3 separate regions of the Homo sapiens genome follow, and all the other regions are linked to region 3. Evidence: fine-mapped expression QTL. A gene starts in region 3. Each other region holds a variant in brackets. All regions are shown on one strand. Distances are from middle to middle. Region 1 overlaps PLCB1 (phospholipase C beta 1). Region 2 overlaps PLCB1 (phospholipase C beta 1). Region 3 holds the start of PLCB1 (phospholipase C beta 1).

The links. PIP is the estimated chance that this variant, and not a neighbour inherited with it, causes the effect. A credible set is the group of variants that fine-mapping cannot tell apart.
Region 1: its variant is the best candidate, but not a certain one, in a credible set for the expression of PLCB1 in neutrophils (BLUEPRINT, PIP 0.54).
Region 2: its variant is the best candidate, but not a certain one, in a credible set for the expression of PLCB1 in whole blood (TOPMed, PIP 0.63).

Annotation. Positions count from the first base shown.
Region 1 is chr20:8,456,307-8,459,070 of GRCh38, reverse strand. All of the region lies in intron 3 of PLCB1 (phospholipase C beta 1), which reads right to left. It overlaps LOC124900459 (a long non-coding RNA gene), which reads right to left. Exons shown (of 2, transcript XR_007067518.1): 2 at 1-2,764. Among named protein-coding and RNA genes, the nearest start is that of PLCB1-IT1, 210 kb to the right of the region's middle. The variant T/C (reference allele first, on the strand shown) is at 1,351.
Region 2 is chr20:8,440,735-8,443,498 of GRCh38, reverse strand. All of the region lies in intron 3 of PLCB1 (phospholipase C beta 1), which reads right to left. It overlaps LOC124900459 (a long non-coding RNA gene), which reads right to left. Exons shown (of 2, transcript XR_007067518.1): 2 at 1-2,764. Among named protein-coding and RNA genes, the nearest start is that of PLCB1-IT1, 190 kb to the right of the region's middle. The variant A/G (reference allele first, on the strand shown) is at 1,527.
Region 3 is chr20:8,130,704-8,133,467 of GRCh38, reverse strand. It overlaps PLCB1 (phospholipase C beta 1), which reads right to left and starts at 1,202. Exons shown (of 32, transcript NM_015192.4): 1 at 718-1,202. The coding sequence starts at 816. RefSeq lists a silencer at 977-1,116.

The DNA.
Region 1 (2,764 bases), 330 kb before region 3:
CCAATCAGATTCCTCAGAAACTTTGCTAAAACCCAGCTTTTAAATTGTCTAATGGCATCAGTATCACCCTGCACCTCTATGTAAAAGTCTGACAAGCAATTCACATTTTATTCTTCATGGCTTTTAATTCTATTGAAATAGGATTTGAACATTTCAAAGTGTAGACACCATGTTATTAGAGTATTTTATGGAGTGTCAAGCTCTGTACAAACATTATTTCATTCATCTGCATGATTTCCTTTCTGGAGTGGGTGGTGTGTTATTATTACTCTTGTTAAGTGGGATAAATTAGCTTGGAAGGTCAGCTTCTTTACTTTAAAGGAAGAACTTACTTAAGAGTCCAGAATGACAACCTCAAATGTCTTTCATCCCAGACAGGTAATGTAAATAAGGTAAGCAGGCCAAATTGAATATGCGATAAAAATGGATTTTGAAAAATTGGGAAATATATGCCCCCAAGTCTCTGTTTCATCTAAGGACGTTGATGTAGCATAGTGGTTAAGAGTGAAGGCCTGGGCAATTTCTTGTTGCAAAGAAGTATGCTTTCTCTTGAAATCAGCACATTTAGGCCTATGGGGAAGCTTCCTTTTTCTACCCATTAAGAAAGGGAAACATAATTTGTTGAAAGATAAAGAACCTAGGACATTAGAATTTTATGATTAAGATGGATGAGGAGGGAATGATCACTTACTGAGATGAAATATTCATGTACTCATTCAAAAAATATTGATTGATCATGAGAGATGAAATATACAAACGGACAATGGCCAGACAATATATGACAACAGAATTCTGAGCACCACCTCTGCAGCAACCAGCTGGAAGCCAAACCACAACCTCTACAGCAACTGGCCCCAACAGTCACGATACAGTCAATGACTGCCAGCTTCCCTATTCTTGGCTCCCTCCTTTCAACTCAGAATCAACCGGAGGAAGCAAGATCTGCTTCCCAAACCAACCACATCAGATGTTCACATCTAGTTAGCTCAACTCCAGCTTCCTCATGCCACAGCGTACCTGGAACCTGCTCTTTGTTTCACTCTAAAGGTTTCCTATCTTTCTGTGTTCCTTTAAGTCTGTGCCAAATGCAACTGATAGTGGTTGATTCTCTTGCAAACTCTAAATAAATCACCTCTGTTCTTGTTCATGTGATCTTCATTTATTTTCACAAGCATATTTAAAAATAACTTTATAAAGTGATCTGGTAAGAGCACAGAGAGGGAAATTCCACAGAGGGTAAAGGCAATGAGACTTGTGCAGGAGACAGCATGCCAGGAGTAGTAAAGGTGGCTGAGGGTGCCTGGAAGGCAAGATGGTGTGTACGTGTGTGTGTGTGTGTGTGTGTGTGTG[T/C]GTGTGCGCGCACACATTAGGGGTATAAGTAGGAGATGACTTTGAATAAAGAGACCAGGAATATCATGCAGTTCATTACTTGACAAACTTGGAATTCTCTATCCTAGTAATGGGCAATAATAAAAATAATTAAATAGACGACTGATTAAAATAAGATTTTAATAGGATTGAACTTGGATTTTCTGAAGTGTTACTCTAGCAGTGTGATGGAAGCTGGATGGAAGGTGGGCAATTTAGGAAATCGTTGCTGCAGGCCTAAACATTGGCAGTGGGGAGAGAAGTGAGGACAAAATAAGGAGATGAGAAAGATGTTAAGGACACACAACTGGCATTACGCTGGGTGAAGACAAGCAATGAACTGAGAGTCACTCTGGGTTTGTGGGTGGCATTGTTCATGGAATAACAATAATGAATGATGACTGGTAAGTGGTGGAGGTGGGACAGGAGGCCAAGATGACCCCTGCAAAGCTCATGTTACTCCCATTTGTATGCACCATGTCCCAGGTAGAGAGGGGACAGTGCTTCACACTTGAACTTGCTTCCAGCTGAGTCTCTTACACTTACAAAAAATAGGTGGCCTCATTAGGTAGCCCTTTTGCAGGTGGCATATAAAAATATGTTATCATATAAAAGTGCAGTTGGTTAAAAAATATAACTACCTCTAGAGAAGTCCATGTAAGATGATTTTGGTTAAAATGTGACTGACATGAAGAAATTTGCAGTAGACTCTTTATGTCCCAATCCAAAATTCATATGTTGAAATCCTAACCCCCAAGGTGATGATGTTCAGACATGGAGCCTTGGGGAAGTCATGAGGTCCTGAGGGTGATGCCCTCCCTCCTGAATGGCATTAGTGCCCTTATAAAAGAGGTCCCAGGGAGCTCTCTGGCCACTTCTCCCATGTGAGTTACAGTGAGAAGAAGGCTATCTGTGAGGTAGTGGGCTCTCACCAGACACCAAATCTGCCAGCACCTTGATCTTGGACTTCTCAGCCTCTAGAACTATGAGAAATTAATTTCTGATGTTAAAAATCTACCCAGTTTATGGTGTTTTGTTAAATCAGCCCAGGCTAAAGTGAAGGTAAAATGATTTTTGTTTCCTTTTTTATATGTGCTAAATCTATATTCTGTACATCTTAATTTTATATTGAAATTTATTTATTTTTCTCATAAAACTTGTGTTTATTAAAAGCAGGAAATACACCCTTTAAAAGACCAACCTATTTCTTTACTGCTACTCTGCAATGTGTAAAGACAAAAAAGAAAAAAAATTCCCAAAAACCAGTGCTACTAAACAAACTAACAATTATTTCACTTCTCAATGAAAAATAAAATACTCACCCCAAACTTTTCACTCGCAATTCACAGCAAAGATCGGAATTTACTTAACACTGCTGGGTACAAGCACATTCACC
Region 2 (2,764 bases), 310 kb before region 3:
GGTCAATAGGTTTCCCTGCTCATTTCTTTTCCACACTGGTAAAAGTTATTTTTAACTTGATATTGAATAGCATACTCTTCCATTACCTTATAAAAAGCAGGGCCTCACCCTACAGGATGGATGGTCTTCCACATCGGCCAATAATTTTACATTTGAGAAAAACAGAGCCCATGGTTAGGACCCACAGTCAACTGCCAGTTGCATTAAAACTCACGAGATGGCCAGGTGCTGTGGCTCACGCCTGTAATCCCAGCACTTCAGGAGGCCAAGGCGGGCAGATCACGAGGTCAGGAGTTCAAGACCAGTCTGACCAATATGGTGAAACCCCATCTCTACTAAAAATACAAAAATATTAGCTGGGTGTGGTGACGCACACCTGTGGTCCCAGCTACTCGAGAAGGTGAGGCAGGAGAATCGCTTGAACCCAGGATGCAGATATTGCAGTGAGCTGAGATCGTGCCACTGCACTCCAGCCTGGGCAACAGGACGAGACTCCATCTCAAAAAAAAAAACAAAAAAAAAAACAAGAAACTCACAAGATAATTTTATAATCAAAGCATTAAATGCAATTTTTCTACTTTCCTGAAATCTGGGCTTTGCTAAGTCTTTCCAAGGTGTGCTACTATCCAAGGGAATAACAAAGACTTGGTAGCCATTCCATCATTATTAGGATTTTCCCAGCATGCTTGGTTTTCATATTTGGCTGTTTTACTAGTTTCAATGTCATGGCAAGGTACTTTAATCTCCTGAGTTTAATTAATAAAACAGAAAAGATTTGAATAGATAATATTATACATTTTGATAACTCAAGAAATGTCCATCTGAATTACCTTCAAAAGATGATAATTTTGGACTGGGATTTCACTAACCCTTTGTTACAGATATTCATTGGACTGAGCTTTAAATTAAGAAAAAATGGGACCTTCTCAAAAACATAATGTTTGTTATTGCCTCAGTATGTCCCCTCTAAAATTCAGATGCTGAAACTTAATGGCCATTGTGATAGTATTAAGAGGTAGAACCTTTAAGAGCTGATTAGGTTATGAGGGCTCCTCTCTCAAAGATGAGATTAAGGCCTTTATAAAAGAGGCTTCATACAGGGTTTGAGCCCACATCCCACCATGCCAGGACAAAGTGTTCCCTCCTCTAGAGGAACCATCTTGGAAGCAGAGAGCCACCCTCACAGACAACGAAACCTGCCGGCCCCTTGAACATCTCAGTATTCAGAACTGTGAGAAAATAAATTCCTGTTCTTTAGAAATTATCATCTCATGTATTCTGCTGTAGCAGTACAAATGGACTAAGATAACCAAGAAGTAAAAATTAAGTATTTAAGACATATTTTTTCTAGAAAATTCTCAAAATAAAAATAAGGAAAAAACTACAGAATCATTGAGCCATGTCTTGAAAACACATGCACACATTAACAAATGGAATATATTCAATTATTTTATTTCTATATTCTAGATTCAATCATATTCAGTGTGTCTTCTGCGTATGTGTGTGTGTTTTAAATCTGAAGTCAG[A/G]ACTAGAACAAAGTATGTTTCTTGAAAATGGATTCCTTGTTTTCTATATTTATTTATCTTGATACAATGCTTCTTTGAATTAACTATGTAACAGTTATAAGGTGCTTTATTGCTGCTTAGCTAATCCTCCTGGATTGATATTTAAAAGGATTTAAAATTTTTTTCAGATATAAAGAGTTTCATGATCATCCTTCCCTAAGACAATCTCAAGAGAATGCTGCCCTCTCCCCCTCCTCTATCTGCCCATAGGAATTTTTCTGTTAAAAGAGTGATCAATATCTGAGAGATCGTCTGTTATGGTCGGTCACTGCTTATGTTTCACACCTGCCTGGTTAATTGGTAGGCAAACAGTGTTTCATTCAGTCCCTAGCGTTCATGCAAAACCGTCTGTATTTAGATAAACTTTCAGTCACTTAGCAAACCTCCAAAATAAAGATTATTTATTATTTCTTATTGATATAAATTGGAATTACAACGATCAGATTTCTTACTTTGTGATCAGATTATCTTTGCAACTAGTAAATTGCAAGGTGTCAAAGTTCTTGACTGCAAAATGCACTCAAAGCAATTTTCTCTTGAAGCAAATCACTCCACCTTTAGAAAATTCATACCAAATTCAGAAAATCTTTGGCTGACAGTCTGGTATCAAGCTCTTCTGTAAGTATCCTATTATGGTCGGTAAGTGTAAAAATTGATATTTTCACATAGATTTCAACTATAATTCTGTAGAGCTAACCATAGATGCCTAATGCCAATGAATAAACAATGTTACTACTTTACTTGGAATATTACTGGTTAGAAACAACGATTTAATTCTAATTGTAGATATCAATAATAATTGGAACATTGTCAAGAAATGTGGCCACGTATTTGTGGGTATATACTGGATTTCTTGTAATGCTACCTTTTTCAAAAGATCACTCCGTTGAATGACGAGAGTAAAGTTTCTTGAATTTTTTCCACCTCAAGTCCCTCTGCTGTAAAATGGTGAGGCTGGGTTAATTTCTCTTTTTAATTTAATTTCTTAAATTGACACATAATAATTGTATATATTCATGGAGTACATAGTGATGTTTCGATCCATATAACATATAGTGATCAGATCACGGTAATTATCATATATATATATATATAAAATCAAAAACATTTATCATTTCTTTGTGTGGGGAACATTAAATATCCTCCTTCTAGCTATCTGATACTATATACCATATGATTGTTAACTTTAGTCTTCCTGC
Region 3 (2,764 bases):
TTTCAGGCAGAAGACTCCAATCAGCTCAGTTCTCAAAAGTCAGCCCTCCCCACTTGCCTGCAGGCCCATGAGCCCTCCAGGACCCCTCAAGGGCCCCCATTCTGTTCACGCCCTCCCCAGATGTGTCCCCGCAGCCCTTTTCAGGGACCCTCACTCCGGAGCCAGGCGCTGAAGTTTGGCATCAACGACCACCTGTTGGCTGGACCGTTGTGTCCTCCGCCGCCTTGGCTCCCACAAAAGCGCCAAGAGGGTTCGCAATCACTAAAGTGTTTTGAACTTCAGGTCCTTCCTTCTTGAAATCGGGCAAAAGAGGTAATAGGGGGTGCGTCCGCAGGCGGAGAGGGACGCGATTTGTTCACACCAGGCGCTTTCCAGTTGGTCCCAACTTCACACTCCCTACTTTCCGAACTCTCAGGACCTGTCACCAGGCAAAGCTTGCCCCTCCCTCTCCACTGGCCCAAAAGATGTAAGACCCTCAGGGGGCGCCTGCCAGACCCAGAAAGGATGGCAACTACTGAAGCCCGATGAAACAGGAGCGCGCGCAAAGCTTCTGCCCTTGGACATCCGCTTTGGCAGATGCCAACCTGTGCGCCCGAGGCTGCCCCTGCCCGCTCCCAGTGCGCCCATTGCATAACGCGCCCCTTGCCCCACCCCCACGACGCCCGCCCTGCCCGGTGCCCGAGCCAGCGCCCCGACTCGGGCCGCCCCAATACTTACATCATCCCACTTGACGAATTTGGTGCCCTTCTTGAGGCTGTCGGACACGCACACGGGCTTGAGTTGCAAGGCGTGCACTCCGGGTTGAGCCCCGGCCATCTGGGCTCATCTGGGCTCCGGGCGGCCCGGGCGAGCGCGGCAGGGACTGGGGACCGTGCGCGGGGCGCGGGGCGCGGGGCGCGGGCTCCTTTCTCTGCTCCGGAGGCGCTCGACTCTGCTCCCCGCCGGCCTCCCCGGCCTCCCGGCCTCCGCACCTCCCTCCGGCGCCGCTCAGCAGGCAGAGCGCGCGGGGGCGCAGCGCCCGGCCATGCCCCGGGCGGGACGCGAGGTCTGGAGCCCGCGGTGGATGAGGAGCCTCGGAAGGCGAAGAGAAGCCGAGCCGGTCAGCCGAGGCTGCCAGTCGCGGCGGATTCTGCTCCTCCGCCGCCGCCGCCTCAAAGCGCACCATTCAGCACATCCTCTATACACAGAGGGAGAGAGCGAGTGACACACGCCCGGCGCCCCCCCTAACCGCTCTTTTCCCTCCTCCCTCCTCCTCCCCCCCGCCCCCCTTCCCCGCCACCCTCGCTCGCTGGGTCCTTCCTTCCCCCCGCGGCTCCCAGCCCAACTTTGCACGCTGGGTCAGGCGCCAGGAAGCGGGGACGCAGCGGCACCTCCTGGCTCCCGAGCCCCATTGCAGCCAACGCCTGCCTCCCGCATTCGCTCTGAGCATGCCCCGTGCCCTGGTTGCAGAGGTGCTAGGGGTCCCCAGGAGCCTTACGCTCTTTGGGGTTTTCTTGGGAATTTGGGCTCGAGCTCCGGAGCGTCTTTGGATCCCAACTGGCTGGGAAAAGGGGCCCATCGGGAGGAACCAAAGAGGCAACCCCTGGCTTTTGGCTCTAGCTGGAGCTCTCCAGCGCCAGCCACAAACCAGCTTTTTGAAGAGAATTATCATTTATCAGCAGAGAAGAGCGCAGTTGAGAGGCTCTTTGAGGAAACCTGGCCGCGCCTGAGAGTTTGCAGCGCGCTGATCTTGAAACCCGGGCAAACGGTTACGTTGTGCTTTCGAGACAGAAAGCCCATCCTAAAGAAAGCAAAGGTTTTATTTTCCGAGGAAGAAAGAGGGTGCCCTCTCCCGCTCCTCTCCTTGAGTGTGTAGGATGTGTGGCGGGTGGGGGAGAGTCTTATTAATAGAAACTTGCTCATTTAGGAACATAGGTCCAGGAATGTTTGTCTTCACTCCTTCCACAAACATTTCTCAATTCAAGAAAGAAAGGGAGGGAGGGAGGGAAGAAGGGAAAGAGGAGGACCAGAATGGATAAAATTTTAAAGACTGGTAATACCAAATGCTTGAAAGGATGTGGAGCAACTGGAACTCTTTTTTTTTTTTTATTAAGGAGAGAGAGGAGAGGGAGAGAGAGAGTGAGTGAGTGTGAGAGAGAGAAAGAGAGAGAGAGAGAGACACACGCGGGAGGTGGGGGGGCGGAGAGAGAAATAGCTTGGAACTCTTGTTCATTGCTGGAGGGAATATAAAATAGTAAAACCACTTTGGAGAATAGTTTCTTATAAAGTAAGATATTTACTTATCATACAACCTAGAAATTCCACTCCTAAGTATTTGTCCAAAAGAAATGAAAACGTTCAAGTCTGCAGGGACTTGTAAAGTGATGTGAAGAACTTTCTTCTTAGTAGCCTGCAAATGTCAATCAACAGGTGAATGGATAAACAAACTGTGGTATGCCCAAATATTGGAATACTATTCCACAATAAAAATGAGTGGGCATGCAAGATCAGGGATGAATCGCGACTTTAAGCTTTGTAAAAGAAGCCGGACACGATAGACTGTATGCTGCCTGATTCCATGTGTAGGAATTGCAGAATAGGCAAGATATTCTATGTTGACAGAAAGCTTGCCTGTGGCCAGGGATAGGTAGAGATGGACAGGGAAGGGCTACGAGCACCTGATGAGCATGTCGGAAATGTTCTATATCGTGTGTGTGTTTATCAAAACTTGTAAGTTCTGTAAGTACGCCTAAATTGAGTGCAGTTTGTTTTAAATAAATTATAT